Regions from separate parts of the Homo sapiens genome. Here region 1 is linked to region 2. A link means that fine-mapping ties the variant in region 2 to the expression of a gene that starts in the linked region. Tissue or cell type: blood mononuclear cells. Region 2 holds a variant in brackets; the other region holds the start of a gene. All regions are shown on one strand. Distances are between the middles of the regions.

Region 1 (5,147 bases), 44 kb after region 2:
TCCAGGGTAAGGTGTGGGCTGCCAGCTGCCCGCTGCTTCCCATTTTCCCGTTCACTGCAACAGCGCAAGAGGGTAATGGTCCACTAGCATATAAGCTCCATAAGAGCAGGGTTTTGTGGTCTGTTTTGTTCACTGCTGAATCCTCAGCACCTAAAACACTGCCTGGGCACATGGTAGGAGCTCAATAAATATCTTAAGTGAATGAAATAAACTCGTATCAGGCCCCACCCCTTTCCCTCAACCATTTCCTCACCATTTCCGGAAGGCATATTCTAAGTAGGAGGCCACGAAACGGGCATGAAACTCAGCAGCATATTTGGTGTCATAAATGCCTGCTGGGAACATCTCACACAGGTCAGCGGTGAAGGTTCCCAGACTCTCAGGGAGGTGTGCATAGAAGTTCTGGTACAGGAACACCAAGTCTATAAGGCCATTGTGTAGCACCAGGGGCCGGCGGGCTCGGATTAGCTCCAGGAATAGGGTCCGTACTGACTGGCTCTGGCTCTCATCACCCTAGATGAAAGTAAAGGGGTCAATGAGGAGGACAGAGTCCCCCAGGGAGCCTCTTCTGCTGGGCACTTATCCCAGACTTCCCCACTTGGAACGCTCTCTCTCTACCTTACCCAATGCTGCCCACCCTCCTCATACCAGTCTTGTTTCCCAAGCCCTGTCACTAGTGATTCCCCATACTCCCTAAGAAGCAGATTCTCCCCAGACATCCAGCCTAGGGTAGGAAGAAATAAAGTCACAGAAAGGGCAGACTCAAGGCTAGGGAGGCTAGAGGCCTACCTTGTCATTGCCCTTATGGTAGGGGATGCCTTGGGCATACTGCTGGTTGAAGTTGAAGCCATGCTGTATCAGGAACTGCACAGACTTTGGTTCTATGACATACTCCTCCATGCACAGCAGAGTGAGATTGAACACTTGAGCCAGATAGGAATGTTCACCCTGGGAGAAAGAGAAGTCTGCTATATCAAGATTTCAGAGAGCCAAGCTAGGAGGATGCAAAAGCTTAAGAATGATACAATGGACTCTGGGGACTCAGGGGGGAAAGGATGGAGGCAGGTGAGGGATAAAAGACTACGCATTGGGCACAGTGTACACTGGGTGATAGGTGCACCAAAATCTCAGAAATTGCCACTAAAGAACTTACTCATTTAACCAAACACCACCTGTTCCCCATAAACCTATTCAAATAAAAAAAAAAAAACTATCAAGTCAAAAAAAAAGATTTGGGAGAGAAATGCTTCCTATCTGATGTTCCCTAGAATCTCTCTACCCTCCACCCCACAGCCACACCTAGGATTGGGGTGAGATCAGCTCATACCTTGTCTGGCTGCCGCTTGAAGCAGGCGAGGCCCAGGGAAAGGATAGAACGGGTCCTGGCAGCATGACACACGGCCTTGTAACGTTCCTCAATGCACCTTGGGGTTGGGTATGGGGGTTGCTGTGGCTAGGAGTTAGCCTTATGAAGGACCCAAACCACCCAGGTCTGTGACCCCCCCACTCCACAGTTGAGGGCTGGCACTAAAGAGAAAAGGGCTTATACTTACTGGTTCAGCAAACTCTTCCTGTCCCCAAGCCCACTCAGCTCCTGTGGGTAGGTAAAGGGAGAGTTGTGACAGGCCTCTAGCACCAGCCCCTTCACAACCACCTGCCCTCCTTGTTTCCCAACTCTCACCGTGTCCACAGCCACGAAATTAGCTGTCTTTATGGCTAGCAGGAGGGATGGCCACATCTCCTTGAAGTTGTTGCTTTGCACATCCACTACGGGAACCTGGACTACTAGCTCCTCCCCAGATGTTGTGCTTTTGCTGACACCACCTGGGGGTTAGGAGGGTGATGGATGTTCATGCTTAAGGAAAGAGCCCAGGGGAACAGACACCAAGCTAGGCCACGGTGATGGTGGTAAGGGGGGTAGTTTCCATTGGTAGCTTTTCCCACAAGCCTTTGTAACCCACGTGTTCTACACACAGGCCTTGGAGTGGAGAATGCCCTGAATTTGGGGAGAGGAAGCCTGAGTCTTCTACTGGCTTGTATGAGCCTGGGTAAATTACTTCCCACCTCGCTTTCACAATCTGTAGAGGAGAAAGTTGGACTAGACGACCTTTGATTCTTTTTTCCCATGTCCTGCAGGAAACATTTTGTAGGGCTTGAGGATCTCAGCTCCCTTAATATCCCACAGGGATCCATACTACTGTTCTCATGGTGCCCCAGCGCCACAAGCAACAGCTCCCAGTAAGCCCCAGAGCCTGGCAGTGCCCCACACCAGAGCTCCCAATACGTCCTACCTTCCTTTGGATCACAACGCTCAATCCACTCCACTGAACTGAATCACAACTATTACTACTAACCGTTATGAGCTCCAGACTACATCTCCCGCCATGCCTCCATCAGCCCCATGCTCCCAACGCTCCAGGCTTTTGCAGCCGGAGCCGCGGTGTACAACGGAACTTGTAGTCTCCTCGTGGCTAGTTCAGGCGGAAGGAGCAGTCCTCTGAAGCTTGAGGAGCCTCTAGAACTATGAGCCCGAGGCCTTCCCCTCTCCCAGAGCGCAGAGGCTTTGAAGGCTACCTCTGGGAAGCCGCTCACCGTCGGAAGCTGCGGGAGCTGAAACTGCGCCATCGTCACTGTCGGCGGCCATGACACCGCTCGTCTCCCGCCTGAGTCGTCTGTGGGTACGCTGGACTTGCGGTCCGTCTCCTGGCGCGGTTCAGGCAGTCGGGGATGGGGCGGGGTCTCGCCGTCGGGTCGCCGATGGGTCGAACTTCCGTTCAGACGTCCCGGGTCCGGCGCGGGGAAGGCAGCCTGGCGCGCGCTAATTGCCTATTGGCCTGTGCTGCCGGCTCGCAGCCCGGGTGGACCCGAGCCACGCCCCCTGGAGTGCGCCGGAAAGCCGGGCGCGCTAGAGCTCGCGGGAGGTAATCTTTCTCTCCTGCTCTCGCGGCGGGAACGCGGGGCCTCCGTGTTCTGCTGTCTTCATCAGCGTGGGCCGCGGGTAGCGGGTAGTGGGGTGGCTGGGTTTGGGCTTTCCAGAGAAGGTGACGCTGCCTGAGCTGAGCTTAAAGCACGCCCAGGAGTTAGACTAGGAGAGGGTCGTGTGGGGGAAAGAAGGGCGTTCTGGGCATCGGTAAATTCCCAGAGAGGATGGAGAGCTCAGTGATCTCCAGAAAGTGAAAGAGGCGGGGAGTGGGCCATCGGAGGAGGCTGCCCAGGGTGTAAGAGCGACCGATTGGTAGGGAAGCTTTTGTAATAATCCAATCAAGTGATAATGTGAACTTGAATTAAGGCTGGCAGTATGGATGGCGAGGAAGGGACAAATTGTGAAGCAGCTAGGCGGTATAGTCGACCTAGAGGGTGATTGAATTTGAAAGAGGTTCCTAGGCCGGGCGCGGTGGCTCACGCCTGTAATCCCAGCACTTTGGGAGGCCGAGGCGGGCGGATTACCTGAGGTCCGGAGTTCAAAACCAGCCTGGCCAACATGGTGAAACCCCGTCTCTACTAAAAGTACAAAAAAAATTAGCTGGGTATGGTGCGGGCGCCTGTAATCCCACTACTTGGGAGGCTGAGGCAGGAGAATCGCTTGAACCTGGGAGGCAGAGGTTGCGGTGAGCCGAGATCACGCCATTTTGCACTTCAGCCTAGGCAACAAGAGCGAAACTCCGTCTCAAAAAAAAAAAAAAAAAAAAAATTCCTATTGGAGACTAGTCCCTCCGTAAACACTACGATTCCCATCCACCTCTGCCTTCCAGTGCTCCTTTGTTACTCATTGTTTATAGTTAATCTTCAGCTTCTCTCAACTGAGCCCATTTCATCATTATTCAGAACTGCTTGGGCCGGGCGCAGTGGCTTATGGCCTGTAATCATCTTAGGAGGCCAAGGTGGGAGGATCGCTTGACCCTAGGAGTTCAAGACTAGCCTGGGCAACATAGTGAAACCTTGTCTCTACAAAAAGAAAATTAAAAATTAGTTGGGCATGGTGGTGCGCACCTGTAGTCCCAGCTACAGGAGGCTGAGGTGAGAGGATGGCTTGAGCCCAGGAGGTCGAGGCTGCAGTGAGCCATGTTCTTATTGCACTCCAGCCTGAGTGGCAGAGCAGCAAAGTGAGGGACACACTGTCTCTAAAAACAAAACAAACAAACAAAAAAAAAACAAAAATAAAAAAACTCTTTGGATTTCTCCTATCCTAAAAAAGGGAAACTCTTTTGACTATCCCCCATCCCATTAATTCATTTAACAGGTATCTATTGTGTACAGTTTACCTGGCACTGACTTTGGACACACACCAATCAACAAGAGAATCAGTCCTTGCACTCAAGTCGTTTTTTACAGTCAAATTCAGGAAGTACACACTGATGGAAAGAATCAAAGTAATGTAAAATTACATTAGGTAAGAGCTACAAGGCAGAAATATGTGATAGGATAAGATGAGGGGACCTGATTTGGACATTTCAGTCAAGACTTGAAAAATGATAAGGTGTTAGGTAAAAGCATAAAAGAGTCCAAACAGAGGAAATGGATTGTGTGAGGCCCCAAGGTGGGCAGACACACTTGAGGTGTTTAAGCAACTAAATTCAGTCAACCTTGGCTAGAGCATAGTGAGGGGATGAGGCGGATGGTGCCCGGATCACTGGACCTGCAAGGCTGTAGTAAGAGGACTGCCTTCTAAGAGCAAGGGTGTGGCAGCCAAATCCCTCCAATGGCCTATAAGGTACTTTGTGACCCTCCTCTCCCCACCTCATCTGGTTTACTTCTCTGACCTCTTCTACCACTCAGTCCCATCTCATTCCATTCTAACCACATTGACCTACTTACTGTACCACAGACATACCAGGCACCCTCCTTGGGGCCTTTGCACTCACTTAGAATGCTTTGGGTCTACCTTGACCACAGTCTTTAAAATTGCAACATTAAACCCCACCTTGGCACTCTTTTTTTTCCCCTCTTGGTCTAATTTTTGCTTTTTATGCTAATATTTATCACCTAACATCTTATGGAATTTACTTATGTTCATTATTCCTTTTCTGTCCCCATTAGAATATAAGCTCCCTGAGGGCAGGAACTTTTGATGTTTTATTTACTGAAGTATGCCAAGTGCCTAAAACTGCTTGGCACATATTAGGGGGCTCTATAAATATTTGCTCAAT
Region 2 (5,147 bases):
AAAAAAGCAACAAAACCACATATGGGGTACAGTGTACAATGCTCAGGTGACAGGTGTTCCAAAATCCCAGAAATCACCAGTAAAAAAACTAATCCATATAACCAAAAACCACCTGTACCCCTAAAACTCTTGAAATAATTAAAAACAACAAAAAGATTAAGAGTCTACAGGGCTGTACAAGATAGCAGGGGGCTTCACAGGTTCTTTCTTCCTTTCCTTTCCCTTTCCCTTTCTCTTTGCCTTTCCCTTTCCCTTCCTTTCTTTTCTATCTATCTTTCCTTTTTTTTTTTTTAGATGCAGTCTCTTTTTTTTTTTTTTTTTTTTGAGTCAAAGTCTCGCTCTTGTCCCCTAGGCTGGAGTGCAATGGTGCGATCTCAGCTCACTGCAACCTCTGCCTTCCAGGTTCAAGGGATTCTCCTGCCTCAGTCTCCTGAGCAGCTCGGACTACAGGCGCATGCCACCACACCTGCCTAATTTTTGTATTTTTAATAGAGATGTGGTTTCACCATGTTGGCCAGGATGGTCTTGAACTCCTGACCTCAGGTGATCCGCACACCTCTGCCTCCTAAAGTGCGGGGATTACAGATGTAAGCCATCATGCCGCACCCCACAGGTTGTTTCTAATGCATGGGTAACTAACCTGATTTCTCTATATGAATTTATATTTGTGTCCTTTTCACTTGTTAAATAATTCTGTCTTGTTCTTTAGGTTCATGGGTGTATGTGTTCATCAAGGACAATTGCATGCACTTACAGAGGTAAGACATCAGTAAGTGTTGAAGTAACGTATTTGCCTTAGTTTCAGCATTTATAGTTCCATAGTAAGTGTTGCTTGCATATGTAAACAAAATGTATGTGCATTTATGTTTATGCAAAAATGGCAGTGTTAATAATGCTTTATTCTGTTGCCTGGGAACAATGGCAGTATTTCTTTATATATATATATATATATATATATACACACACACACACATACACTTTAAGTTCTGGGGTACATGTGCAGAATGGGCAGTATTTCTTAATGTCCTTCTATTCCCTCATAATACTTGGTGAATACTCTGACAATATGAGTGCTCAAGTATTAAAGTATTAAGTTAGCTCTTGCTGCCTAGATATGACTCCATCCTAAGCCAAGGGATGACAGCACTTGACTGCAAACTCTCTATGGCAACAAATTACCAGACCACCTGGTAATGTTTGCTGTCCTGATCTAGAATTCCACAGTCCCTGCTGTGGTTTCCTGGTTGGTCTTATTACTTGTTGGAATCAGTTTACATCTTCATTCTCGTTTCATTTCCAGCCTCTGCTAGGCGGAATATGTGATAGTCATTATTCATCCTCCGAGGATCAGAGAACTCTCTTTAGAGCCAATTCAGGTACCAAGTTATCAACTTCAGACCTTGCTTGGGTGCTCCTTGGAAACACAGATTCCTGGAATCTTCTAGGTTTAATAGGTTTGTATAGGGCCTATTACATCTATATTTTTAAAAGCTCCTCAGATTATTTCATGAGCATCTGGATTTGAGAATCTATGTTCTAGATTCTTTTCACATTCCTCCTTGAGAAGCAATTACCAAAGTACAAAGTGAAGAAACTTAGGAAGGAAAGTTGTTTAACAGAATTTGCAAGAGTGTTGGTTTTTTACTGGCTTGGTAACTGGTATTAGTCCTTAATAGCTTATGAAAGAGGGTCCCATGTGCCTCAGTCTCTCTCTTTTCTCAGTTACTGAAGGCACTAGAATGTGGAATGTGTGCAGCTATGCCCTGCCTCTTAAATGGAAAGCCAAAGAAGACAGAATGGTGAAGAGGTTAAGAGCATGGCCTCTGAAGTCTTGATTACATACGTTTGAATCTGTCTGTATCTCAAAGTTTCCATCTGTATAATGGGGATAATAATAATTAATAATACCTGCCCCAGGGAGTTTAGATAGAGAAGATGACCAAGAGCTGAGCCCTAGAATATTTGGGAGTCTGAGGTGAGAGGATTACCTAAGACCAGGATTTCGAGACCAGCCTGGGCAAC[A/G]TAGCAAGGCTCTGTCTCTACAAAAAAAAAAAAAAAAAAAAAAAAAAAAAAAAATTAATAATTAGCTGGATGTGATGGCATGTACCTGTAGTCCTATTTACTCAGGAGTCTGGGGCAGCAAGATTGCTTGAGCCCAGGAGTTTGAGGCTATAGTGAGCCATGATTGTGCCACTGCACTCCAGCCTGGGCAACAGAGTGAGACCCTGTCTCTAGATACATAGATAGATAGATAGATAGATAGATAGATAGATAGATAGACAGATAGATAGATAGATAGATAGATACGTACGTACATACATACATACATACATACATACATACATAGAGTGAGACCCTGTCGATAGATAGATAGATGAATGAATGAATGAAAGTCTGGGGAGAAGGACAGACTGAGAAGGAGCAGTTAGTGAGGTAGGTAGAAAACCAGAAGAACGTGCTGGCCTGTAATGAAAAGGAAAGAGTTTCAAGGAAGGAGTATTAATTGTGGCAAATGCTGTTGATATAATGTTGACCTCACAAGGATGTTGGGAGGATGAAATATAAAATACTTATTTAGTACAGTGCCTGGCATGTATAAATTATTTAATACATGTTAACTCTTTGAACAAAATAACAGTGACTAGTCCCTCTTCTGAACTCTGAATTGTTAATATTTTTCATTTTGTACTTAGTCCTATACCGCTGTTAGTGTCATTAAATTAGACTTTTTACTGAAGTATAACATATCAGAAAAAGTATACATATGAAAAGTACCACTCACAAAATTTTTACAAATGAACACACCCATAACCAGCACCCCAGATCAAGAAACATTTGCCATGTATTTTTTTTCTTGGAAGTGAGTCTATAAATTCTTCAGAGATAAAATTCTCCCCTTCCTTCTGTCTACCAGAGTTCTGACGCTAACAAGCATAAAAGTATTTGATGCATTCCCTGCATGTGTGATTGTTCTCTGAAATGTGAATTCATTGGAAGGGCTGGTGTGTTAATTTTGCCGACAGAGAAGAACATCCTTTAAAATCTGTGTTAAGTTGCATATTTTAAAGCAGGTTGTGGTGGAAATGACAGTAATGAGTGATCATAATGCAATATTCTCTTGGCCATGTTGTACTTAATCTGCTGCTTGTTAGCTTCTTTATAGCCATATAAAACATACAATGTGTACTTTATGGAAGAGTATTTATTGCCAGTCTTTCCAGCAGCATTAATGAGATTTTGACATAGCTTATGATATTAGTAATTTTTAATATGATGTTAATAGACTGGTAGTGATGAAGCCCAAATAGCCAAATGCTCTTGGTTATTTTTAGAAGGGATCAGCAAAGGCCTTGATGGCATAGGTCTTTCGAGACTTCTAGGTTTAATTGCCTTATAATTTGACTTGGCAGCACAACTATATGGTAAGGATAATAAAAAATAAATTATTAAAAATATCTAGCACAGTCCTTGAAACTTAGATGACATTCACCAAATACTTTTCAGTTGGTGGAATGCTTGTCCTCCAAAGTAATGTGAGTACCATTCTTCATTTCTCTTCACATTTATTTGTCAATAATTACAGTAGACAAGCATGGCACTCATTAATACCTATAAAACATTGACATTATTAGGAAGAATATTTCCCATATACATTAGTGATCTGGACTTTCCTGGGCTTGAACCATTTCCATGAGTCTTCTTTGTAATTGTAGACATTAATTGAACTTGGAACAGTCAGACACTTAGTTTTTATTTTTAAACTACCTGTAGTAATGATAGACTAAAGATTTTTTTTTTGGGGGGACGGAGTTTCACTCTTGTTGCCCAGGCTGGAGTGCAATGGCCCGATCTCAGCTCACTGCAATCCACCTCCCAGATTCAAGCAATTCTCCTGCCTCAGCCTCCTGAGTAGCTGGGATTACAGGCATGCGCCACCATGACCGGCTAATTTTGTATTTTTAGTAGAGACGGGGTTTCTCCATGTTGGTCAGGCTGGTCTTGAACTCCTGACCTCAGGTGATCCGCCTGCCTTGGCCTCCCAAAGTGCTGGGATTACAGGTGTGAGCCACCGCGCCCGGCCAGCTGACTCAAGTTTTTAAGCAAACTAGTATTTGTTAAAGTGAAAGCATAGTCTGGGCATGGTAGTTCACGCCTGTAATCCCAACACTTCCAGAGGCCAAGGTGGGCAGATTGCTTGAGCTCAGAAATTTGAGACCAGCCTGGGCAACATGGCAAAAGCCTGTCTCTACAAAAAATACAAAAATTAGTCAGGTGTGGTAGCATGCACCTGTAGTCCCAGCTATTGGAGAGGCTGAGGTAGGAGGATCACCTGAGCCCAGGAGGTTGAGGCTGCAGTGAGCCATACTTGCACTACTGTATTCCAGCCTTGGTGACAGAGCAAGACCCTGTTTCAAAAAATATATAGTGAAAACGGTTTGGTGAAAAGTCACATGAAACCTTTTAAATTTAATGAGTTGAAATATGAATCTGTATTGAGGCTGGGTGCAGTGGCTCATGCCTATAATCCCAACACTTTTAGGAGGTAGAGGCAGAAGGATTGCCTGAGGCCATGATTTTGAAACCAGCCTTGGCAACATAGTGAGACCCAGACTCTACAAAAAATTAAAAAAATCAGCCAGATGTGGTGATACACACCTACAGTCTCAGCTACTTGGGAGGCTGAGACAGGATGATTGCTTGAGCCCAGGAGGTTGAAGGTTGAGAATGCAATGAGCCATGATTGTACCACTGCACTTCAGCCTGAGCAACAGAGAGAGACCTCTTAAAAAAAAAAAAAAAAAAAAAAAAGAATAGGAATGTACCATAAGTATGTCTTTCATTCACAAGACCTAACCTTGTCTTTCACTTAGTCACAAGTATCAGGGAAGTGTAAATCTTTGTTTTTTTTTTAACAGAAAATATAATTCTGTGTATTGGTTAGCTGTTGCCCTCCAGCCACAAAACCTCAAAAGCATACAATAAACGTTTATTTCTCATACATTTCCAGAGTTAGCTGAACTGAGTGGGGCTAGATTTGGCAGTTGTGCTGATCTCAGGCTCACTCATGCATCTGCAGGTCAGCTGGTGGTCTGCTCTAGGCTGAAATTTGCTGGGAGAACTTTGCTCTGGCTCATCCTCCTTCTGGG

What was found. PIP is the estimated chance that this variant, and not a neighbour inherited with it, causes the effect.
Region 1: it holds the start of MUTYH, and the variant in region 2 is fine-mapped to the expression of MUTYH in blood mononuclear cells (TOPMed, PIP above 0.99). The same link has a PIP of 0.9 or more in nasal epithelium.

Annotation. Positions count from the first base shown.
Region 1 is chr1:45,337,750-45,342,896 of GRCh38, reverse strand. It overlaps MUTYH (mutY DNA glycosylase), which reads left to right and starts at 2,927. Exons shown (of 16, transcript NM_001048174.2): 1 at 2,927-2,998. It overlaps TOE1 (target of EGR1, exonuclease), which reads right to left and starts at 2,727. Exons shown (of 8, transcript NM_025077.4): 1 at 2,593-2,727; 2 at 1,682-1,824; 3 at 1,554-1,594; 4 at 1,328-1,424; 5 at 790-948; 6 at 254-513; 7 at 1-54. The coding sequence starts at 2,644. RefSeq lists enhancers at 1,402-2,068, 2,367-2,716, 2,069-2,737, 2,738-3,405.
Region 2 is chr1:45,381,523-45,386,669 of GRCh38, reverse strand. It overlaps TESK2 (testis associated actin remodelling kinase 2), which reads left to right. Exons shown (of 11, transcript NM_007170.3): 4 at 710-758. Among named protein-coding and RNA genes, the nearest start is that of TOE1, 44 kb to the right of the region's middle. The variant A/G (reference allele first, on the strand shown) is at 2,023.